Linked DNA regions of Homo sapiens. The protein of the gene in region 4 purifies or fractionates together with the protein of the main gene of each other region. This does not show direct contact. Each region holds a gene or a part of one and is shown on either strand. Other genes may lie near its edges. The genes, in order: CUX1, CLGN, DNAJB4, SLC12A4, DNAJA3, TMEM9B and TTC1.

Region 1 (3,500 bases), on a different chromosome or scaffold from region 4:
CGCAGAGGCCGTGGCTCTGCTGCAAAAGGAGATGGGGGAAATCTAAGTAGCGACCTACGGCATTGAGGCCAGGGAGGTCCATGGGAGGGAGGACTGCCTTGAAGGAGGATCACCCGCCAGCCCCCAGAACAAAGCTCGCATTAATCATCCAAAGACATTCAATTTCGGTTAACATCCTCATAAAACACTGCATTTTCTTGGTGCAAATTGATGCTGTTCAAAACATCTCCCTGCTCTGTTTGAGTCTAAATTTCAGGGTGTTTCAAACATGTCTGATGAAATGACCTCTCAATAGCTCTGTTGATGTGGCACATTGATCCCCTGGTCTTAAACAGAAAAGGAACTTTCTTTTTTGTTTTTTTATTTGAGGCAGGTTCTCACTCTGTTGCCCAGACTGGAGTGCAGTGGCTCAATCATGGCTCACTGCAGCCTCCACCTCCTGGGCTCAAGCCATCCTCCTGCCTTAGCCTCTCAAGTAGCTGGGACCACAGGTACACGCCACCACGCCCAGCTAACCTTTTGATTTTTTTGTAGATCAAAAGATTACAAAATATATGTTGCCCAGGCTGGTCTTGAACTCCTGGACTCAAGCGATCCATCCACCTCAGCCTCCCAAACTGCTGGAATTATAGGCGTGAGCTACTGTGCCCGGCTGGGATTTTTTGAAATTATGAATGTGACTGACATTTTATCTTTTTACGGAGGGTGGGGTAGAAAGGGTGCTTAAATAAAACTTTTGTGTATTTTACTCAAGCCAGGCCTGTTTTACTCATAATGCTAAACAAATCACTAATGGACCGTGAACAATGTAGGGAAGGTGGCCATGGGACACGCCCTCTTCTGCGGGGTGGGAAGAGGGGAGGTGTCATCTGTGATGTGTTCTCCCTACAGAACCAGCTTTGCATGAGGATCGAGCCCAGTCAACGTTGCTGCTATGGGGCTGGAGGGGACTTAAGGGCTCCTCCCAAAAGTGAGACCAGCACCCAAGGCCAATTGGACCCGCGGCCACTAAGCATACGGAGACGCTATACATCATGTAATGCAATTCCCTCTGATACGATCTCTAGTATTGAAATACTATAGGGTTTCCTAAGTATGGAGTGCTGAGTGCGTTTCAAAGGCCAGATCTCCCAAATCTAACAGCCTTAACTCATGCCGGGCCACCCTTGAGCTCTGGACGTGGCAGAAGCAAAGAGAACTTTACCTGATGTGATGCACAAATGTTTCATCACGCACACAGACACACGCACGCATGCACACACACATGTGCAACTCTGTGACGGGCTCGCACGCTGGCGCCACCCAACGCCAGTCTCTCACCTCTTTGTCTGCCTTGGATGCTACGGAGGGCCAGGATGTTCTGCTCATCGGAGAGGAACTGTTTCATCTTGTGAAATGGCTCCTTGCCACGAACAGTCAGTTTATTCCATGGCTTGGGCCGGGCCAGAATCTCGCTCACGGACCCTTGAGACAGTCCCAACACATAATGTCCGAAAATACGTTGTCCGATATTGTGCTTAATCAGCTGCTCTTTGACCTGCCGGGCGATTTCTGCAGTGTCCATCTCCTCGCCCTCGGAGACGCTCCCAGCACTTTCTGACTGGCTGGGGGATGGGGCCATGCCATTGACATCTGGGCTTTGTTGTAATGGACTTTGGGAAGATATGGAGTTTGTGCTGTATGGACCTGTTGAAAAAATCATGCTTGTGCTTCCGGCTTCCTGCATAGCCTTGGAGTAGAAGGACTGCATTAGCTGCCGCTGGAGAAGAGAGTTTAGTGCAAATTTTCCTGTAGAAGCCAGGGGTAGGCTGGGGCTTGCCAGGGATGAGCTGAAAAAGTCTTGACTTAACCCCGCTGGTGAGAACTGGTGTGTACCATTAGTATTGGAAGCCTGCTCCCCCGGGTTGCGGGGCAACTGAGAAGGAGGGGGGGCCGGCAAAGATCCCGGGCGCCGACTTTCAGGCTGGTCTTTCCCTTTCCTCCTGGCTGACCCTACAAGGAAGGGCAAACAGAATGCATTATGGGGGATTCCAAAGGGGGAAAAAAAAACCAAGACCAAAATGCAAAAGTTTGCCCCCGCAAAAGGGAAAACAAAAAAAAGTGCAGGTTTTTTTTACAAGGGCCAATGAGGTGGGTTGGTTTGTTTTCCGATTAAATTTGTAAGTCAGCCAAACGAGGCTTCCCAAAACAAGCAACATGCATTCATGTTTGCGCCTTTCTTGTACGTTGCAGCCTGGAGAGTCCCCTTGACATAGACTCAAACTCCTAGCGTGACAAGGAGCTGGTGACACACACAGGGAAGAGTTGACGGGTCGCGGGCCTCTTACTGGGCCCGCTGGCCCCGGCCGGAGGAGCAGCAAACACTGACATTTTAGGACCAATGGATTCGCTCGCACCTCTTGCTCTGAGGCGATGCACCGTACCGAGCCCCCTCGATGTGGAGGCGCGCGCCCGTTTTGAGAATGCAATACCATTAGAGCCCGAGACACCTGTACGCGTTTTACCAGCTGCCCAAACCAGAAGCACAGTCAAGTGACGCCACCATTTGGGGGATGAGCCAAGAAAGGCTAAGGATGGGGGACGCGTCCCCAGGGGAAACCTGACCAAGGAAGAAAAACCTCTACTGGACCCGGCAGGCCCGGGGCTGTCCCTGAAAACACCACCAGAGCGAGGCTGGGTTCACACTGCCCCTGGCCTCTGTGCAGCACAACCAGACACAGATCAGAAAGGCCGACGTCCTCCGAGCTGTCCCTCCCGGGGATTCCAGCCGCACTGCCCCTAACTGACCTCCGCAGAGCCTGTGCGGCTGGCCCGTCTCGACATCCAGCTTTAAGCAGGGCGGGGAAGGGAAGGGAGGAGCGGTGAGGAGGAGGGCACCCAACACGCGTTAGTCAAAGGTTCTCGTCAACCGGCGCTTCTCTGGCCATGCATCTGTCCAGACTCACGATTCACCTTCCTCGTCCTCGACCGACCCCTGGAAGCGAACCAACCACCGCACACGCGCGAAGCCCGGCCAACCTACCGCTCAGGTCGCTGTTGGAGATGCGCAGCGCGGCGTTCTCGGACTGCAGCGAGCGGTTCTTCTCCAGCAACAGCACCTCCAGGGGCTTGGCCGCATCCTAGAAGGGGCAGAGCGGGGGTCTCACTGCGGGGCCGGCCACTCACCCGCTCCCGGGGCCACCAGGCCTGGAGCCCTGCCTCCCTCCATCTGTCCGCGTTCCCACCCAGCTCTCGATCTGATTAGGAAGTGGGCTGCGGACAGCTGATTTCCCCCCAAGTCGTTTAACACACGTGGAAAACAAGTTCCCTTTAGAAAGAATGGATTCTAGTTGAAGTCATTTTCCTTCTTAGACTTCCACAGCTCCTAAAAAAATTAATTATTCTCTCATCTGTTCTCAAACTCAAGCGACCTGAGCCCGTGCCTCATTTGGCCATAAGACTGGCTGCCAAGCCACAAACGTCTGTCCGAACGTTACTGTAAAGGGAACTTTTCTTTTTTT
Region 2 (3,500 bases), on a different chromosome or scaffold from region 4:
TTATTTAAAACTTGGCTCTGGAAGAAATTCTCTTCACCTAGCTCTCCCTAAATATGGATATTCATACTAAATAATGGTCCCAAAGTCCCTATAAAAACTCAGAGGGCAGGAAGACCAGCAAACAGTATGTGTACTGATTAAACATTAGGAAAGACTTAACAATAATTGCAAATTTATTTGGAGGATTTCTTTAAATAGATAAAATACAAAATTCATTTCATCACATGCAAGAGCAGGCAGAACTGTACTTTTATCCTACCTACATAGTTGGAATGTAATATGTTAGGATGGTGACTCTGTGGGGTAAGGCTACCCAGCTCTTTAAGGGCCAGAGAAAACTGGTTTTTGGTTTATGCTGGATTAAAAACAAAAAAGAAAAAAGACAGCTCTGGCTCTAATTATACTCGGGATTTCTCATTCCATAATAACTTACAAAAAAAAAGCATTGTGCAAAGTTCCATTTTATATCAGGACACAAAAAGGGGTAGACTAATAAGGGGGGAGAAAAGTTCACTAAAGATTTGAGAAAAATACCCTATCAGGCAGATAGTACTCAACTACCCAATGAATGAAATATTTTAAAACGTGAGAGTAAAATGTTGAGACAATAAAGATGTTTTACAACAGCTATAAAAATTATAATAATGATAATTATCTTTTAAATATTCAAACAATGTGTTTATTATGCTTTTCAATAGAATTTCAATGAGAAAGTCATAATTTTGGATACATGTATTCTATCTTTATATTTTGTACGCCACAGGCTTGCTCTATACTGTTTTACTAGGCATTGAGACAATATAAATTACAGTATTTTTCTTTCCTTCCTTATGGATATGTTTTAAAAACAATATAGAGGCTCTTATAAAAGCTGAGAGAAATATGGCAAAAATTCTTTCATAAATCATATTGGTGCTTTTATTGAAAAAACTTTTTATGGATAACAACTATACATAGAAACCAGCTTATTTTCTGTTACCTCATCCTCTGACCCAGACTTATTTGATTGATTACTTTCTTCTTGCCCTTCTATGATTTCAATTTCTTCTTCACTCTTTTCCTCAGGTTCACTTTCCTCTTCTAGAATACAGATTTTGTTAAAAGCAAAGACTCAATAAATTAGAATTTTGCTACTGAAAAGTATTAAATACAATAAATGGGATTTATTTAAATTCCAAGATTTATTCCAAGATTTAGAAGCAACTTCTTCCATTCAAAATTTTAAAAATTATAAATACTCATTATATTATCATATTTTATAAATGAATCATATTTGAGTTTGGGGACAAGTTTAAAAAATTCTTAAGCATTCAGTCTGTATGTAATATGAAAACCAAAAAATAATAATCTTTCCTGTGTTCCTGTCTTGGAAAATACTTCCTTTAATTTTTGGTGATCTTTTAATCTTCAATATGTTATTTACTTATGTTTGTTCTCTGTGGACATCATGCATTTTTTCAGTTATTGACCCTCCTTAGGATTCCATTTAGCAGAACCTCCAACTTTTGTCATCATTATTAACCAAAAGATATTAAGCACGTCCTAGGAGCTATATAAAGTAAAAACTCCTACCCTACCAAGAATGGGCTTTGGGGAAAGGGAAGTTGAAAAATCAACTCTACTTCTTCTACGTAGTTCCAATGTGGGACTACGTGTATAGATGAAAGTGGTGAAAGTACCTTTATACAAGCAGGCCCCTCCGATACTTAAATTCCCTCTAAATAAGGCTGATCCAGACATCAATATACTAAGCACTAAGAAGTTACAAAAACAAGGCTGGAAACTTACAACCTGAAACATTTGTTGTTTTAGATACCTATCCTAATACACACATGAACATGTGTATGTATATGTGTGTATATATATATATACTGTCTCTTAAAAAATAGATAGACACATATGTGTTTTTAAGTCAACTGTTTCATTAAGTGAGTTAAACACTGTGCTTCAAGACATTTGGCTTGGGACACTGGGCAAATCAATAGTTTTATTTCTACCTTATGTAAGGAGGTCTCAGCGGACAGCCACCAAAGGGTGACTTCAGTTCTAACATCTTCAAGAGTTTAACATAGGGTGAGAAGGGGATATAGGTTCAGCAATCCTTTCAGAAAATTAATTAAATTATTTCTTCTATATGATAAGCATCTGACTAACAATAGCTGTTGGAAGACTTGGTGTTGATTTTGTTGCTGCAATCATCTGTTTTATATCTATTCCTTTTCTACAGAGGCCATGATATACACCCTCTATCACCCTCCATCTCATCTTCTACACTCCCAGAGCCAAGAAACATCCTTGCAAAAAGCTATGGCCTATGGGATTCATTAACTGCTAGGCTCTCAAGCAACTGAACACTATTTAAATCTCCTTCTTCCTAGAATGCAAAAACTATAAACAGGGTGGCTGCTCAGAGGACTATTATTCCTTCTTGCCACAGTCACATATTCTTGGGAGATTCAGATGTATAAACTTGATAATAAACAAGTATAATAACTAGTTATTTCAAGGCCATATACAGTTTTATGAGCTTTACCCAGAGTCTCCATTATAAATCACTCTCATCATCTTACCTTTTTCAAGCATTTCACCATCATTTTGCTTTTTTTCCTCTTCCAGGTCCATTGGTTTTTCCAGGGCTGCTTTCTCTTCCTTTTCTTCTTGCTCTAGTACTCCTTTTGTTTGTGGTATACATATGTCGGTTTTTTTATACTCTGTATCTTTATGTTTTTTCTGTGGTAGTTAACATAAGTTATTTTTACTAAAGGCAGAGTGCTATTTTGAAAGTTTTTTTGCAATAATTGATAACATACATAATGAACTATCAGTAAAACTTATGAGACATTTAGTTTATTACTTTTAAGAATCGCTTAATTTATAGAACTCTTAAACAACAAGAAATTTGGGTGAAAAAAGTTGAAGGAAATCCATTTTCTTTACCTTTACTTTTCTTGGCCAACAAAATGAAGTAATTAATGCTATTGGCACTCCTGCTGTCACAAGATAAATCAACCAAAGCCATGGGTGCCCTTCAGCAGCTGCCATTAACTGTTTTAATACACCAGGCTATAGACGAGATAAGCATAAAAATGCAATTCAAATTTTACAAACCTTTACTGGGTAACACAAGATACAAAAAAACTTATTTACTCAGGCATTTTACATTAAGGAGTGATGAACTCGTAAGTAAAAGAAGTTTCATTTTCCCACCTTATACTTTGTAAAGTCTAATTTAATTATTAGCATGCATCACTGAGTGAGACTTGATAGCAGAAGGTATGTTATGACAAAAGTGGAAACTTCTAACATACTGGCAAGAAAAATGGTAATTTTCCTTTTTGGTAAATTTCAGAATAGAACTACCTTTTATGGATGTATTACCTGGTTTATTTGAAGTGATCATTCATTCTGTACTCTGATCATTCATTCTGTACTTTTAAAGAACTTACTAAAAATCATACCTCAGAATTGTTTTCTTTTTTATATAAACACATTTCACACAT
Region 3 (3,500 bases), on a different chromosome or scaffold from region 4:
TGAGGACATTCTATGAAAAATGGTTTTTTAGACACTACGATTGTCATTCCTACTCTAGATACCAAATTTTTTAGGCATATCACATCTTAGCATTAATTTCAATGCTTGTAAGAAGACTGAAATCAAGAGCTGTAAACTTTGACACGTAAGGCCTCTATATGGGTTATTTCTGTCTCTTGTGAACAGTCCACCTCAGGCAACAATATAGTGACTTTTTGACCCTTTGCTTAAGGGTTCCACTAAGTAATATTTAACCCACAAAAGATTATATTTGAAACAACATTTTCCACTATGAAAGAAATGTTCTACTAAAACTCAAAAAACAACAGTATGGTGATCTTTTAAGGGGTCAATACAGATCAAGAAACAAGCAGGAAAAGAATCTAAAAATCATAAAACTATGAAAAATCCAACAGATTAAGCTAGGAGATTCTAATATCTCCAAACAGTGAGTGATTTGAAGGCAGGAAATATATTTATTTTGCACTGCTCATGCATACAGGGCTGAAAATGGTAGGTATTCATGCTTAGTGAATGAAGGGAATGAACTAATTCCTAAAGTCCTTCTAAATCAAAACTAAAAAAGGTGTCTTGAGTATCGGTACAGAGAAAAAGGCAGAAGCAAAAACAATGTAAAATATAATCACACATATACATATATGAGAGATTTAACAATTTAAAATGCCACTAACACACAGCATACTTTAAAGAAACTTAGTTTTGCTTACGTCTTATTCTGCATTTGGCTTCTTCCATTAAAAGGTATATATCTACTCTATTTCATCTAACAGGGTCTCAAGTGATATCTAAAATTTTTACCTTCATCCATGAATAGAAATCTGGAGAGATCAAGAGAGACCTAATAATCTGAAAATTGCCAAAATATGTATTGAACAATATATCCAAATAGCAGTTAGGGAAATTCCTTGTAGAATGACAAGTATAAGCAGGACAAGATCTTTTCATAAGCAGCTCATCCAAATTTCCCTTTTATAAATTTTAGTAGTATAATTATAACTCCAAATGTTAAAAAGGTAATGGCAGATTTTTTTTTTAATGATAGAATAATATGTAGCTCAAGGTCATGACCAAAGTGACTCAACCAATGCTTAAATTATTTAAATAATTTTATCCTTCATCCCATAGACTTAAGGGAGTATAATTATTTAACTGAGTTAAGTAAACTGGGTAAATCAGCCTGCCCAATCTAGCCTCTTATAAGACAAAATTTAAATACTTGCACCCATAATGAATTCATGAAAAGAAAGAATAATGTTTTAATTTATTACATCATGGGTTTGGCTTTCTGGAAAACCTCTTCCTCCTCTGCCAAAAAGGGCAATTCGGTCATAATTACAAAGTCTCTGAGAAGATTCATACAAAGTCTGAAGTAACTTACCAAAGCTGATAAAAAGACTCCAATGCAGCTTTGAGGTTTTCCTAGACACTATTAAACAGTCAACTATGCAGCTCAGACAAAGAACGAAGCTACTCTAATGAATGAAAAAAATCCTAGGCTGGGCACAGTGGCTCACACCTATAATCCCAGAACTTTGGGAGGCCAAGGTGGGTGGAGCATGAGGTCTGGAGTTCGAGATCAGCCTGACCAACATGGTGAAACCTCGTCTCTACTAAAAATACAAAAATTAGCCAGGCGTGGTGGCGCACGCCTGTAATCCCAGCTACTCAGGAGACTGATTCTGTCTCAAAAACAACAAAAAAAAGAAAAAAATCCTACCAAAATTCATGCCACTTTAATATACATTATTATGCAAGTATCACTTGCATTGTCTAGCACATAAAATTATAAGTAATGTCACATTAACTATATGGTCAGTTCTTAATCATGTACATTTTGAACGCTAATGGAAATGTTTAATATCCAATTGGATTCCCTCTGCTATTCAAAATGTTTTCTAGACATCGTCATCACTTTGTGTGATCAAAAAACGCACCAGAGAAGCAACATTTGCCTATGATTTAGCAAGACTGCTATTATTTTACAACTAACCAGTCAACCAGTTTGCAGTCCCAAACCAAATATGTGTTTGGAATACTATCTATAACAATGATTCCCACTAATTAGTTAAGGTTGACTAAAAGTTTCCAAAAGAAGAAACACTGGAGAAAAATTCAGATTGCAAAGAAAAAAACATGATAATACTTTAATAACTCTTACTCCATCCAAGGAGATCTAATATGTAAAAATCCAGATTTACAGCAAGACTTCAGTTATCAAATAATGAGATTCTGAGATTTTTTAAACAGTTTTAATTCACAAAAATCAAATTTACTTACATGTTTTTAGAACACACAGTGAATTAAAAAAAATCCAGCTAGCTAAATATATAAGTTAAAGAACAGAAGAGAACTAGTATAAAGATTAATAAATACAAGTTTTATCATTTAAACACTACCTTTTAATATTTGAAGTTACTGAATAAATCATATGCAATAACAAAATAAGGAAAGCATAAAAAAAGAAAAATTAGAAAACTAGAATAAATGAGGATGTGTTATTGAAAATCTTTTCTTTTAAATCTCTTAACACAAATTTTTGTTGACATCCACTAAACTATTCAAGACTAAACCTAAAACTTTAGAGAGTGGTTCAGAATCCAATTTTAAATTTCTGTAGTTCTGTGGTTTTTGTTTTCAAATGATTCAACTATAGAGAAATTTTATTTTTAAAAAGATTTATTACATATATAAAATTAACCTATTGTACAAATACAATTCAATTGATTATAGTAAATTGATAGAGCTGTATAACCATCATCACAATCCAGTTATAGAACATTTCCATCATTCCAAAGAATTCTCTAGTTCTTATTTGTAGCTAATCCCCGCTCCCACCTCAAGTCCTAGGCAAGAAAGATCTGCTTTCTTTTTCTATATACTGGCCTTTTCCAGACATTTCACATAAATAAAATCATACAATATATAGTCTTTTACATCTGGCTTCTTTAATTTAGCATAGTTTCTGAGGTTCATCAATGGTGTAGCATGTTTCACAAATTGGTCCTTTTATTGCTAAATAGTTCCTCATTGAATGTATATAGCACATTTTGTTTAATTCACCAATTTATGGTGCTTTCAGATTGTTTCCAGTTTGGGGCTATTATAAATAATGCTGCTATAAGCATTCAGGTACATGTCTTTGTGTGGACATGTTTTTGTTTCCCTTTTATAGATTCCTAAAAGTAAATTTGAGTTATCCGTATTTTTTTTCTTTCCTTTGCTTTTTCTAGAGGTAGGGTCTTGCTATGTTGCAAAGGCTGGACTCAAACTCTTGGGCTCAAGCAATCCTTCAGCCTCAGCCTCCCTATTAGCTGAGACTACAGGCATATGCCACCTCACCCAGCTAGCCAACTGTTTTTAAAACAAAGCATTTTAAATTGTGAATATTCAGAACACAAATATACTGTGTTCTGGATTACTGGTTCTTTCACTCCTAAATACATAAATTTAGCATATGCAACTTACATACTTTTCAGTTT
Region 4 (3,500 bases):
GGCCAGACAGGCTCCACTCACTCCAAACTCGGCTGCCAGGAGCCAGGCTGGGAGGACACTGGGGGGCTGGGAAGGCGGCCAGTCCTGCCCCCGTTCCCAAGCTGGCCACACAAGGACAGCTCTGTGCTCTGTGCCCCTGCTCAGCCTGTGGGCTCAAGAGCAAGACGACGGGAGGGAGGACCCACCCTGGAGCACACCAGCAGCTGCCCCGGGGATGCCAGGGATCTCGGTCACATTGTTGAGCATGAAGTAGGGGTCACAGGAGTCGGTCGTAAGGTTGGGGCTGTGGCAGAAGAAACTCCATAGCTGGGTGGCCACTGTCTCATTGTCCACTACAGCTGTCTTGGCACAGATGTCAAACTGGTCCCGGGACAGGGTCCTGTTGCCCAGCATGCATACCCTGTGAGGGACAGAAGCACCGGCACCTGCTCAGGTCAAAGCCCCTGCCTGTGCCCACCCTGCAGTCTCTGGGATCTGGGGCATCAAAGGCTGGCTACATGGGAGGGATGTCCATGCAATGCCCAGATAAATTCCTGGGTTACTTACGGAAACACGGGAGGGTCAAATATAGACTTTATGCCCCCAGCATAGATGGAGAGGATGGAGATGATCACACAGGCCAGGAAGAGCGAGGCAAATTTGTTCACATACTTGACCCCCACAAACACCACCAGGGTCATGAAGGTCAGGAAAATGGTCCCATACACACGCATATTGTTCAAAGTGGCATTCGACGTGTCATGAGCACCCGATGGGTAAAAAATGGCAGCTGGTGGGGCAATGTAGGTCTGAAACAAGAAGATGGATAAGGAGGGTTTTATTTCTTATTTGGAAAGTGAAACTTGTCGTTTTGGTTTTCTTTTTACGAGTACCTAAAAGAGGCCGGGCGCAGTGGCTCACGCCTGTAATCCCAGCACTTTGGGAGGCTGAGGTGGGGGATCACTTGAGGTCAGGAGATCATGACTAGCCTGGCCAACATGGGGAAACGCCATCTCTACTAAAAATTAGCCGGGCGTGGTGGCACGTGCCTGTAATCCCAGCAACTGGAGGCTGAGGCAGGAGGATCGCCTGAATCCAGGAAGCAGAGGTTGCAGTGAGCAGAGATCGCACCACTGCACTCCAGCCTGGGTGACAGAGGGGGACTCCGTCTCAAAAAAAAATAAAAAATAGGTCAGCGCCGTGGCTCACGCCTGTAATCCCAGCACTTTGGGAGGCTGAGGCGGTGGATCACTTGAGGTCAGGAGTTTGAGACCAGCCTGGCCAACATGGTGAAACCTCATCTCTACTAAAAATACAAAAATTAGTGGTGCAAAAACTGGTAGTAGTGGCACACGCCTGTAATCCCAGCTACTCGGGAGGCTGAGGCAGGAGAATCACTTCAGTCTCGGAGGTGGTGGTTGCAGTGAGTAGAGACCACACCACGGCACTCCAGTCTGGGTGACAGAGTGAGACCTTGTCTCAAAAAAATAAATGAATAGGCCGGGCGCAATGGCTCATGCCTATAATCCCAGCACTCTGGGAGGCCGACTGCCTGAGCTCAAGAGTTCGAGACAACCCCAGGCAACTTGGTGAAACCTCATCTCTACTAAAATACAAAAAATTAGCTGGGCGTGGTGGCATGAGCCTGTAATCCCAGCTACTCGGGAGGCTGAGGCAGGAGAATCACTTGAACCCAGGAGGCGGAAATTGCAGTGAGCTGTGATCATGCCACTGCACTCCAGCTTGGGCGACAGAGTGAGACTGCATCTCAAAACAAATAAATAAATAAAAATAAAAAATAAGAGTACCTAAAAGAAGCCAGTCACAAAAGGTCACATATTATATGATTCTGTTTATATGAGATGCCCAGAATAGGCAAATCCCAAGGCAGAAAGCAGATTCCTGGTTGCCAGGGCTGGCGGGGAATGGAGAGTGACTGCTAATGGGGGTTCTTGGGATGATGAAAATGTTCTAGAATTGACTGCGCAACTCTGTGAATATACTATAAAACATTGAATTGTACACTTTCAATGGTATATAAATTGGTATGGGAATTGCATGGTATGTAAATTATATGTTAATAAAGCTGTTACTTAAAAACAAGCAAACAAAAAGGATCCAAACATAGATGCCAACCTGAATCGTTAAATAGCCAAAGTGGAACAGTTTGAGCAAGAAAATAAATAATGATAGTATTGGATTACAACCCAAAGAATAAAGTAAATATCCAGAAGTCCATACAGATATAATGACATGGCTGAATAGATAAACAGGAGAAGGGACAAATCCCACATAATGAATGTAGAAGGGATATGAGAAATGAAAACAAGCCAAAGCCCCCCCAAATCAGAAGATTCAGGTGCAGGGTCCTGCTGCAGGTAGAGGACCTGGAGACAAGAACAGCCAGGCAGTCCCTCCAGGTATCTCCTACCCTCTGGATCCCCAGGGGCGGGCACCTGTCACCCCATGCCTCCCGCAGCTCCTTGCCTCTTCTCCCACTGGTACGGCAGTTCACTGGGGAATGAGAAGCTGAGGCTGACAGAGCTCCCATGGGGCTCGTGGAGGGAGCGCCGACCTCCAGCAGGGTTCTGTGGCTGCTTACCCTGATTGAAGGACAAGGAGAAGGTGGATCTGAAGTGCCCTGGCACAGAGCCCCGGAGGACACAGAGCTGGCCAGAGCTCACACAAGCCCAGAAGGAAGCCTACATCACCACCAAGATCTGTCACTGAGCTGAATACAACAGTTCCTGGAACCCTTGCCATGGCTGCAATGGTGCCCAGGTGGATGGAACATCCAGGGCCGAGGTGAAGGCAGCCAGGCCTCTGCCTTGCCTGGCCCAAACTGGCATGGAGGTGAAAGGAAGACCAGCCTGAGTAAAGGTCTTTGTCTCTCGAAGAGGCTTCCTACTTTATAATACCCAGGCCTTGGCCAGACATGTGGGGATGAACAGCCTGAGCCTTCTGTTTGGAGTCCAAAGGGACTGTTTGGACATGGCCAGAGTTGGCCAGGGCTCAGCCTGACTCACCAGCAAGATCTCGATGGCCCCCAGGATGTACATGGCTGCTGCGAATGTTGTTCCCAGGTAGAAGCACAGGCCCACAGCACCTCCAAATTCTGGCCCCAGTGAACGAGAGATCATGAAATAGGAGCCCCCAGCTACAGCAGAGAAATGAAAGTGTGCACAGGTCAAGGCTGGTTCTTCTTCAAGGGGTCTCCCTGTGACAAGCCTGCACAACCACCCAGAGGGACAGGGACTGCTTTTCCTGTTTGTGGATGAGTAGAGGGGCTGGGAGACCTACCCAGGGCTGCACGGTGGGTAAGCATCTAGGCTGACATTCGATCCTATCCCCATCTGACTCGAATGTCCAGCACGGCCCGTGGAAATAACTGCTTTGCGGGAGCAGCTCTAGTCTGCAGCAGTGGCTGACTGGCCACCATCCTCCAATGCCCTGTGCACAGCCCACAGCCTCCTCTGGCTGGGTGTGTCCTATCTCAGCCCACCTCACCCTCCTGAGGCCTG
Region 5 (3,500 bases), about 64 Mb from region 4:
TTACCATATGACTCAGCAACTATACTCCTAAATATCCAAGAGAACTGAAAACATGTCTACACAAAAACTTACATATGAATGTCTATATAGCAGCACTGTTCATGATAGCAAAAAGTGGAAAATATCCAAATGTCCATCAAACGATGAATAAACAAAATGTGATTAATCCATGCAACAGATTATTTGACCATAAAAAGGGATGAAGTATTGACACAAACTATAACACAGATGAACCCTGAAAACATTATGTGAATGAAAGAAGCCAAGACACACAAAAGGATACATATTGTATGATTCCCTGTATATGAATATTGAGAATAGGCAAATCCAAAGAGGCAGGACGCAGATTAGCAGCTGCTAGGGACCGGGGAGAGAGGACAATGGAAGGGGAGTGCTAATGAATACAGAGTTTCTTTTCGAGGTAATGAAAATGTCCTAAAGTTGACTGTGGTGACAGGTGCACAACTCCAGTGAACTGTGCACTTATAAAAAGCTGTCAATCCTACAATGGTGCCTCCAATATTGATTTTATTTTGTTGGTCAGAGCAAACCAAGGGTCTAGGAACCAGTGGTGTAGACATCTCGTATACAACTTTACTCAGCTACCCTAACTACCCTAATAGACCCTGGGATACAATGGGAATTTCACATTTTCCAGGTTAAGAAAGGGCCAGGCGCGGTGGCTCACGCCTGTAATCCCAGCACTTTGGGAGGCTGAGGCAGGTGGATCACCTGAGGTCAGGAGTTTAAGACCAGCCTGACCAACAAAGTGAAACCGCGTCTCTACTAAAAATACAAAAAAAATTAGCCGGGTGTGGTGGCAGGTGCCTATAGTCCCAGCTACTTGGGAGGCGGACACAGGAGAACTGCTTGAACCCAGGAGGCAGAGGTTGCAGTGAGCCAAGATTGCGCCACTGCACTCCAGCCTCAGCAATGGAGTGAGACTCCATCTCAAAAAAAAAAAAAAAAAAAAAAAAAAAAGAAAGGAAAGGAAGTAATTCTAAACCTCTAAACTTTTATCTGGATGCAAAAAATAACTACCTAAAACTTAGACTAGCATATCTACTGATTCAGAAAATACAGATTAAATTTAATTATGAAAACAGCTCTAGAAAAAAAAACTTCTTAAAATCTCTGGTTTGGACTCACCTCTTTTTTCTGAAGCACCAACCTCTACAGCATTGTGCATCGAAAAACAGTCTAGCAAAGTCCAGCTTTATCACACCCTTCTATACTATCAGCTCATGAGACCTATTCATATGGGCACATACGCTGTACTGATCAGGATCACATGGGATCAACAACATTCCTACTACAATTTGGTCACCAAAACCTGACTTCCATACAGACCTGATAATAGGCTTTCTTGATCTCTTTCTGGCTGGCATTTCGAGGCACTCCTAATATCTGATAATAATCTTCTTTGGCCAAAGGGGCACTCGTGTGGAAGGAGGCAGTACAAATGAAAGGGTTATGTTTTGTTCCTAAAAAGGAAAAAACAAAGAAAATCACTCTGGGAATGTTCTCAACAAAAGAAAACTGTGAGTACATGACCCACCAGGCTATATCTGTGAAGGAACAAACAAACTGATAAGGTTTGGCTGTGTCCCCACCCAGATCTCAACTAGAATTTTAGTTCCCATAATCCCCACGTGTCATGGGAGGGACCTGATGGGAGGTAACTGAATCACAGGAGCGGTTACCTCCATGCTGGTCTCGCGATAGTAAGTTCTCATGAGATCTGATAGTTTTATGAGGGGCTCACCCTTTTGCTCATTCTTCCTGCTGCCATGTTAAGAAGGATGTGTTTGCTTCCCCTTCCGCCACGATCGCTGAGGCCTCCCCAGCCGTGCTGAACTGTGAGTTAAATAAACCTCTTTCCTTTAAAATTTACCCAGTCTTAGGTATGTCTTTATTAGCTGCATGAGAACAGACTAATACACAGGCTACAGCTTTAGGGCTGTTCCCTAATGCACTTCAATAATGGCTAAGGAAGCCACAGTATTCAATTAATATTAAACTATGTCAGAGTATTGGATGAGGCTGATTCTCCTCGCTTATACTACTGGAGTGGTCTCAGTAAACCACTAAAGGAATAATACTCCTGACTGGGAGATGATTAAAAAGGGATTCAGCTCCCCCCTCTTATGCCACATGAGCACTTACCATTTGCTAGGTATTTTCATATTTTCATATTTTTCTGTCACATTTAATGCTTAACAACTCCCCACATTCTTTTCCCTCTATCTTGCAGCCTTGGGTATCTACTTAAGGAGCAGTTCTCAAGACTGCGCTCCCTGGACCAACAGCATCATTAGACTGATGAAAACACAGATGTTCAAGCCCTACTCCAGACATTCACCAGAAACTCAGGAGGTCTCCACCCACTAGATGCCAGTAGAGAACTCCCCGTCTCCAGGCATTGCCAAATGTCCCCTGGGAAGTAAAAGTGTCCCCTGCTGAGAACCAATGACAAATCAATCTAAGAAGGTCGGGGAAGAACTTCTAGGCATCAGCTGTTAAGCTGCAGAAACTGGCTAAGCTGCCCAGGAAAGCATTTGCCACTTTCAGTGGAAAACAAATGGCGGTTACTAACTAGGATGACTTTGTACTTTGGATCTGGATTCACAGCACCTTTTTTAATAGCAAGACACCAACTGCTTAAGAAACAAGGATGTTTTAGTTCATCCACTTAACAGATAGGAAGAGCAGGTTTTTTGTTTTTTGAGATGGAGTCTCGCTCTGTCGCCCAGGCTGGAGTGCAGTGGCGCCATCCTGGCTCACTGCAAGCTCCACTTCCCGGGTTCACGCCATTCTCCTGCCTCAGCCTCCCAAGTAGCTGGGACTACGGGCGCCTGCCACCACACTCGGCTAATTTTTTCATATTTTTAGTAGAGACGGGGTTTCGCCGTGTTAGCCAGGATGGTCTCGATCTCCTGACCTCATGATCCGCCTGCCTCGACCTCCCAAAGTGCTGGGATTACCGGCGTGAGCCACCGTGCCCGGCAGGCTTTTTGTTTCTTTGTTTTTTGAGACGGAGTTTCGCTCTTCTTGCCCAGACTGGCGTGCAGTGGTGCGATTTTGGCTCACTGCAACCTCCGCCTGCTGGGTTCAAGCGACTCTCCTGCCTCAGCCTCCCAAGTAACTGGGACTACAGGCGTGTGCCACCACGCCCAGACTGGAGGTGTTTTAATAGATGAAATCTGTTTAAAAAGTGAATAAGCCGGGCCGGGTATGGTGGCTCCTGCCTGTAATCCCAGCACTTTGGGAGGCCAAGGCGGGCGGATCACCTGAGGTCAGGAGTTAGAGACCAGCCTGACCAACATGGAGAAACCCCATCTCTACTAAAAATACAAAATTAGCCGGATGTGGTGGTACATGCCTGTAATCCCAGCTAGTAAGGAGGCTGAAGCAAGAGAATCGCTTGAACCTGGGGGGCAGAGGTTGCAGTGAGCCAAGATCGCGCCATTGCACTCCAGCCTGGGCAACAGGAGTGAAAC
Region 6 (3,500 bases), on a different chromosome or scaffold from region 4:
TTTTTGTAGAGTTGTTACCATAAATTCACAGCTCTGGTCAGAAAACCTCTCTGCCTAGAATCAGTTTAAAAGACATCCAAGAGTCAGCCAGGCCTCACAGAGACAGTGTTCTCAAATAGTCAATACACAAGCAGAATCAATCACTGGTGGACAAAACAATTACTGAGCATGTGATCCCACCAATTAAATGCCTGCCCTACATGTTTTCATCTCTACATCCATTTCTCTTATGTTTTGTGTTATTATATTGTCTATTTCTGAAATCAGGAACAGATATTTAACGCTGTAAAGGAAGGATGTCGTTTAAGACTTTCAACGTCTATGCCTATAGATGCACGAGCCATTCCAGGGTAAAAGGACTTTTGACTGGCTGGCAAGGGCTCACTCTGGGTTTGGCTTTTGAATTGAACCTTAAAACTATTCTGAATTTTACCCATTTTAAGGAACATAGTCCAATATAATAATCCACGAGAAAAAGTAATTTCTAAAAAAATAATTATATATAATAATGAAAGAATGGAAAATTCAGCTGGGTGCGGTGGCTCACGCCTGTAATCCCAGCACTTTGGGAGGCCGAGGCAGGGGGATCATGAGGTCAGGAGATTGAGACCATCCTGGCTAACACAGTGAAACCCCGTCTCTACTAGAAAAAAAAAATACGAAAAATTAGCCGGGCGCGATGGCGGGCGCCTGTAGTTCCAGCTACTTGGGAGGCTGAGGCAGGAGAATGGCGTGAACCCGGGAGGCGGAGCTTGCAGTGCGCTGAGATCGCACCACTGCAGTCCAGCCGGGGCAACAGAGCGAGACTGCGTCTCAAAAAAAAAAAAAAAGGAAAATTCAGAAACAATTTCATACAGGGTAATGATGAAACAAAAATATCCAGCCAGGCGCAGTGGCTCACACCTGTAATCCCAGCACTTTGGGAGGCCGAGGCGAGCTGATCACTTGAGGTCAGGAGTTCAAGAGCAGCCTGGCCAAAATGGTGAAACTCCGTCTCTACTAAAAATACAAAAAAAATTAGCCAGGCGTGGTGGCAGGTGCCTGTAGAACCAGCTACCTGGGAGGCTGAGGCAGGAGAATTGCTTGAACTTGGGAGGCTGAGGTTGTAGTGAGCCAAAGTCACGCCACTGCACTCCAGCATGGGCGACAGAGTGAGACTCCGTCTCAAAAAACAAAAAAAACATTCTCTAAGCTACACTGAAAAACAGATTTGTGGACTAAGTCAATTTCTGGACATTTTTGAATAAACGAATATTAAAACAAAAAGGAGACCATGAAGCAATTTATACAGATTATGCCAACTATATACACACACACACACACACACACACACACACGCTATATATATATATATATAAACATATATAATGTACACACGTGTGTGTGTGTGTGTGTGAGAGATTTAAAGACAGGAAGAGAATCTGGAGTGATGGTAGTCATGGTTTTATTTTTCTCTAAAGATCTCAGATTTTTTTTTTCTTTTTTTTTAAACAGGCTTCTTGCTGTGTTGCTTAGGCTGGAGTCCTATGGTGTGATCACAGTTCTGCAGCCTCAAACTCCTGGGGTCAAGTGACACTCCTGTCTCAGCCTCCTGAATAGTTGGGACCACAGGCATGCACCACCACACCCGGCTAATGCTTTTATTTTTTGTAGAGACAGGGTCTCACCATGTTGACCAGGGTGGTCTTGAACTCCTGGGCTCAAGTGATCCTCCCACCTTGGCCTCCCAAAGTGCTGGGATTACAGGTGTATGCCCCCACACCTGGCCCACAGATTTTTTTTTAAGCAGTAGAAAAAAAGGAAATATAAAACATCAGCAGGTTATCAAGTTGTACTTCATTAAGAAAAGAACATCATGATCTTCACACTTCCCTTGATGAAAACCTCTCTGCCTTCTAAAATATTTGGTGATATTGACAGAGAAGGTGTTTCAGGCAGGAGAGCTTGGAGAGAAAACCATCTCTGATACTTTTCTCAATGTAAACAGGGAATGGCAATAAAATTGTGCCTTTGGTACTGAAAGCAAGGCCCTGTATAGCATGCTCACCAAAGATCATCGTTTAAATCATCACATTTATGGCTTCATCAAGCAATTTCTTCATAAAGAGGTATATACTGAAATCAGAGCTGTTTTTAGCTTCTCTAGTTGAGGATCTGCTTCAGCACGTGAACATCTATATATGACTATTTTTCACTTGCACTTCACATCGAATGATGACAGGGACTGGCCATGAGCAGCTAGGGCAGGCTGGGAACTTACCCCAATATCATCATCACTCTGTATCAACTGTGCATGTCCAAAGAGGCGCCTCTTCAGTATGGGCTCAACCAGAGTAAGATATACCATGTACAGAAGTAGAAGGCCCAAAATGGAGAGATAAATTATAATGGTAACCTAAAGGAAATTGAAAATTAAGTTACATCTTTGTTCAAGCCCATAAATCAGAACTTTGTATGATAATAGTAAAACTGACTGACATATCTGCTAAGCCTATAGGATTTCTATACAAACCAGATAGCAATATAAGAAATAAACTCAACTCTTCACCAAAGTATTATTTAAGAAAAAAAGAGGAAAGATCTTTGGGATTTTTTTGCAAGTCTTCAAGACTCCAACTTCACCTACTGCTAATCACCTGTCACCACTGCTAGCACAGCAGTTTGTTTCTTTTCCCAGCTGAACATAATGTCCTAAATTCAGCTACTCTTTAGCTCAATTTAGATATACAAAAGTATTTTCTAGGCCGGTGATTTTTTCTTGTGACCTTAATTCATGTACTGAGAAAAAGTACAGTGTGACACACCCACTAGAAGGACTACAATAAAATAAATAGACAATACCAAGTATTAGCAAGGATATGGAGAAACAGCCCTCATACGCTGTGGTGGGAATGTAAAGTGGTACAACCACTTTGGGAAACAATCTGGCAGTCTCTTAAAAAGTTAAACATAATTTTACCATTCTAAGGAATTAACCCAAGAGAATGGAAAACATATATATCCATACAAAGACATATGTGCAGATATTCACAACAGTATTATTCATAATAGTAAAAACCCAGACATAATCCAAACGTCCATCAACTGATAAATGCATATTCATATAGTGAAATACTATTCAGCAATAAAAAGAAACGAAGTACTGATACATGCTACAACTTGCATAAACATCAAAAACATTGTGCTAAATGAAAGAAGCCAGTCACAGAAGACTATATATTATATGATTCCATATACATGAAATGTCCATGTATGCAGAGACAGAAAGTAGACTAGTGACCGAGTAGGGCTGGAAATGGGAATTAACTGTAAATGGGCATGAGGGATCTTTTTGGGGTAGTGGGAATGTTCTGAAACTGGATTTTATTTTTTTTTTTTTGAGACAGAGTCTCACTGGAGTGCAGTGGCACGATCTCAGCTCACTGCAACCTCTGCCTCCAGGATCAAGTGATTCTCATGCCGTAGCCTCCCAAGTAGCTGGGACTACAGGTGCGTGCCAC
Region 7 (3,500 bases), on a different chromosome or scaffold from region 4:
AATTCAGTGCAGAAACATGCTGTACAGGTTTGTAGCCCAGGAGCAATAGGTTATACCATATAGCTTAGGTGTGTAGTAGGCCATACCATCCAGATTTGTGTAAGTATACTCTATGATGTTTGCACAATGATGAAATCACCTAATAACACATTTCTCAGAATGTATACCCGTTGTTAAGTGACTCATGACTGTACTTTAAAATGGCCAACTTTATGTTATCTGTATTTTACCACAATAAACAAAACAAAAAAGGTTTCAGGGTCATCTGGGACCTTTTTTTATTTCTCTTTCAATGTTCAGCATACCAATTCAAATATCAAAAACTCTAAGAAGTCCTGTAAGTAATCTGTATAACTTTATATAAGTCAATATTTTTTCAACTTATCACATTTCTATAAGTCAAAGACACACAATTTCACAGTTTCTGAAATAGAAATAAATCTTTACAATTTATGTGTACAACTGTTGTGATGGTATTCTTTGTGTGCCTAGAAGTGATTATTAAGCTGTAGTGCATCTTATCCACTGTCTCCTCAAATCAAGGAATTATGGAATTTTATTGCAGAAACTTTTGTTTGAGGCTCATAGTCTACTAATACCTCAGAGGACCCAGGTGTTGTCTGCTGCTTACAATGGTAGTCCCCAAAGTGGAGTGTGTGGGAAAAAAAAAAAAATCACAACTTTACCATTCTTTCATAATTTTTATATATAGGTAGCTATCTATCTATATAAAACAGTATACATAATATATAGTGACAAAACAAATGTACACAGCATATAAGGACAAACAAATCTAACTATACATATAAAACAATGTATATAATATATAAGGACAGTAGTTAAAAAAAAAAAAAAAAAGAGAACCTACTCTTTTAGGGCTCTGCTCTTGTATAGCTAGCGAGACCTAGAGCTGAAACTCTGCCCTAGCTCCAGGTTACCTTTTCTCTCTCCAGATATGAAATGTGAAGCGTGGCCAGGGGCACTGAGTCAGGGATGCTGAGCTTGCAAACCTGCCTTTCAGAAATTCTTCATCTTTACCTCTTAAAGCAGTTAAACCATCATTTCCTTGAAAAACTTAGAATATAATATGCTCCTTAAATTGTGTCAGGGTACTAATCCTAGAAGTTATCAAGTCTCTCATTTTAGAGTCTTCATAAAGTATTAAAAATGCAACTTAAGGCCGGGGACGGCGGCTCACGCCTGTAATCCCAGCACTTTGGGAAGCTGAGGTGGGCGGATCACGAGGTCAGGAGTTTGAGACCAGCTTGACCAACATGGTGAAACTCTGTCTCTACTAAAAATACAAAAATTAGCCTGGCGTGGTGGCGCGCACTTGTAATCCCAGCTACTCAGGAGGCTGAGGCAGGAGAATCGCTTGAACACGGGAGGCGGAGGTTGCAGTGAGCCGAGATCACACCACTGCACTCCAGCCTAGGTGACAGAGTGAGACTCCGTCTCAAAAAAAAAAAAAAAAAAAAAGAAACGCAACTTAAAAGAACAGAAAACTTCACCAACAAAACTATTCTTTGAACAGGCAACAATCATAGAGCAACGCTCTTTTGAGTTCTCCTCAGATGTGACAGACAAAATACTAACAAGACCATACATTTTCCTAACTCAAGAACCAGACTATTTATGTGAGCCCAAACCTAGAAATATCAATAACTTGGGCAACTGTAGAAACAAAGAATCCCAAATCCCAGGAGCCAACTGGGTATGGTGCATTTCCTCTGATACTGAAGGCACATCCTTGATCCTATTTCACAATGACAATGTCCAGTCTAAAAATGTGGCAAAAGGGAGAAGCAAATCTAAAAGATCAGAATTTTCCAGGTAAGTGTAAAAACTGTTAGATGTTAATTCTGATTGCTGGTGGGACACATTAATGAATATTGTTTTAAATAAAGTTAAACCAATTGTTTTGTTTTCTCTAATACAAAATGTTGGTTTGTATACTATAAAATTATTTCTTCTCTCATGCCACATGAAATACTCCAAAAATACTCTGCTTTGAAGATTGAATCTTACACAAGTTCTGGTAAAAAAAAAAAACCGTAACCTTTCTGCATGTCCAAGCATTCAAGCACCCACCCCCGCAACCCTGCCCTGGGGCCTTTAAAAAAAACAACAACAACAAAAAAAACCTTGTCACCTAAAGTGACTGTGGTAGAGGCATTTGAGAATTTCAGACAGTATCAAAGAGATATCTGATCTAAACAAACAAATGAAAACACTGCCACTTCCAATCTTGAGCCAGCATCATGGTTGCTTAAAGGTATGTTAAATAACCTATCCTTTGTACTTTGGATGTAAGTAGCCATAGTTTAAAAAGTGGTATGGTTTAAAAAAAAAAAAAACCACTCTCATTTCAATCCAAGGATTATGAAGACTAAATCGGAAAATCAGACAAATCAGAAACAAATCTAACTTTTTTTTTGAGACAGAGTTTTGCTCTTGTCGCCCAGGCCAGAGTGCAGTGCACTGCAACCTCTGCCTCCAGGCTTCAGCGACTCTCCTGCCTCAGCTTCTTGAGTAGATGGGATTACAGGTGCCCACCACCATGCCTGGCTAATTTTTGTATTTTTAGTAGAGATGGGGTTTGACCATGTTGGCCAGGCTGGTCTCGAACTCCTGATCTCAGGTGATGTGCCCGCCTCGGCCACCCATAGTGCTGGGTTTACGGGTGTGAGCCACTGCATCTGGCCCAAATCTAACTTTTAATAAGGTCATGGTATAAAACAAATATATTTGTACTCTCACCTATTCCATACTCACCTTGTTATACTAGGTTCTCAGTCCTTTGGAAATACAAAATGTTTTCAAAGTTCCTTGACACCTATTTTGCATTTAAGGGTACCTTTTATCCCAGCTGTTGGAGATTTCTCCAAGTGTCCATACTTTGAACAGAAAAGTCAGAATCCTGGGAATAACCATCTTTAAAGATGCTTTAAAGCCCAGAGTTTTTACCAGTGTTTCCCTGTGCCTTTGCATGTTTATCTAGAATTCCAGAGGCCTAAAATAAGGATCTAGAGCTATTCTAGGACATGCACTGCTTGGCTCATTGCTTCATTAACCTGACCTAGTTTAGCAAAAAATTTGCCAGCCCTCCTTCCATGAAAGTATTCACTCAGCTACTTTAATGGGGAATGTTAACAGTAATCTGACTCAAGTTTTTCAAAAGATTTTCTATTCTCCCTGTGGCCTTTACATCAGGGAAATATATGGGCAGGAAAAGGGAGGCAGCAACCTCTATGCTAGTTTCTGGAGAGAAACTATGGTATGAAAAGACTGCAAGTCCATGTGCTTTTTAAAAAGAAAAGGTCACAGATACATACCTGTTTCATCCTTGCTGCAGCTCTATTTGAAAATAGAATCGACCTCTCCTTTTGGAAGCAGGATGGGCACATTTCGAGGGCTCGACTATAAGAACTTTCAGCTTCTATATAATCTGAGGATAAGAGAAAGGATGAATGGTCATTTTGATTTTATTCCTGATACTA

Evidence for each region.
Region 1: the proteins of SLC12A4 (region 4) and CUX1 purify together in Homo sapiens (affinity purification with mass spectrometry; one large-scale study listed by BioGRID and IntAct). This does not show direct contact.
Region 2: the proteins of SLC12A4 (region 4) and CLGN purify together in Homo sapiens (co-immunoprecipitation; 2 studies listed by BioGRID and IntAct, with this or other methods). This does not show direct contact.
Region 3: the proteins of SLC12A4 (region 4) and DNAJB4 purify together in Homo sapiens (affinity purification with mass spectrometry; one large-scale study listed by BioGRID and IntAct). This does not show direct contact.
Region 5: the proteins of SLC12A4 (region 4) and DNAJA3 purify together in Homo sapiens (affinity purification with mass spectrometry; one large-scale study listed by BioGRID and IntAct). This does not show direct contact.
Region 6: the proteins of SLC12A4 (region 4) and TMEM9B purify together in Homo sapiens (affinity purification with mass spectrometry; 2 studies listed by BioGRID and IntAct, with this or other methods). This does not show direct contact.
Region 7: the proteins of SLC12A4 (region 4) and TTC1 purify together in Homo sapiens (affinity purification with mass spectrometry; one large-scale study listed by BioGRID and IntAct). This does not show direct contact.

What each region holds. Positions count from the first base shown.
Region 1 is NC_000007.14:102,195,126-102,198,625, reverse strand, and holds part of CUX1 (Homeobox protein cut-like 1), read right to left. Parts: intron 3,120-3,500; coding exon 3,023-3,119; intron 1,993-3,022; coding exon 1,321-1,992; intron 1-1,320. UniProt on the Homo sapiens protein: May be involved in intra-Golgi retrograde transport.
Region 2 is NC_000004.12:140,389,649-140,393,148, forward strand, and holds part of CLGN (calmegin precursor), read right to left. Parts: intron 3,064-3,500; coding exon 2,938-3,063; intron 2,731-2,937; coding exon 2,571-2,730; intron 1,081-2,570; coding exon 980-1,080; intron 1-979. UniProt on the Homo sapiens protein: Functions during spermatogenesis as a chaperone for a range of client proteins that are important for sperm adhesion onto the egg zona pellucida and for subsequent penetration of the zona pellucida.
Region 3 is NC_000001.11:78,007,939-78,011,438, reverse strand, and holds part of DNAJB4 (dnaJ homolog subfamily B member 4), read right to left. Parts: intron 1-3,500. UniProt on the Homo sapiens protein: Probable chaperone. Stimulates ATP hydrolysis and the folding of unfolded proteins mediated by HSPA1A/B (in vitro).
Region 4 is NC_000016.10:67,951,638-67,955,137, forward strand, and holds part of SLC12A4 (solute carrier family 12 member 4), read right to left. Parts: intron 3,137-3,500; coding exon 3,006-3,136; intron 789-3,005; coding exon 547-788; intron 401-546; coding exon 186-400; intron 1-185. UniProt on the Homo sapiens protein: Mediates electroneutral potassium-chloride cotransport when activated by cell swelling. May contribute to cell volume homeostasis in single cells. May be involved in the regulation of basolateral Cl(-) exit in NaCl absorbing epithelia.
Region 5 is NC_000016.10:4,432,368-4,435,867, reverse strand, and holds part of DNAJA3 (dnaJ homolog subfamily A member 3, mitochondrial), read right to left. Parts: intron 1,485-3,500; coding exon 1,351-1,484; intron 1-1,350. UniProt on the Homo sapiens protein: Modulates apoptotic signal transduction or effector structures within the mitochondrial matrix. Affect cytochrome C release from the mitochondria and caspase 3 activation, but not caspase 8 activation.
Region 6 is NC_000011.10:8,950,943-8,954,442, forward strand, and holds part of TMEM9B (transmembrane protein 9B isoform a precursor), read right to left. Parts: intron 2,396-3,500; coding exon 2,261-2,395; intron 1-2,260. UniProt on the Homo sapiens protein: Enhances production of pro-inflammatory cytokines induced by TNF, IL1B, and TLR ligands. Has a role in TNF activation of both the NF-kappaB and MAPK pathways.
Region 7 is NC_000005.10:160,036,639-160,040,138, reverse strand, and holds part of TTC1 (tetratricopeptide repeat protein 1), read right to left. Parts: intron 3,449-3,500; coding exon 3,336-3,448; intron 1-3,335.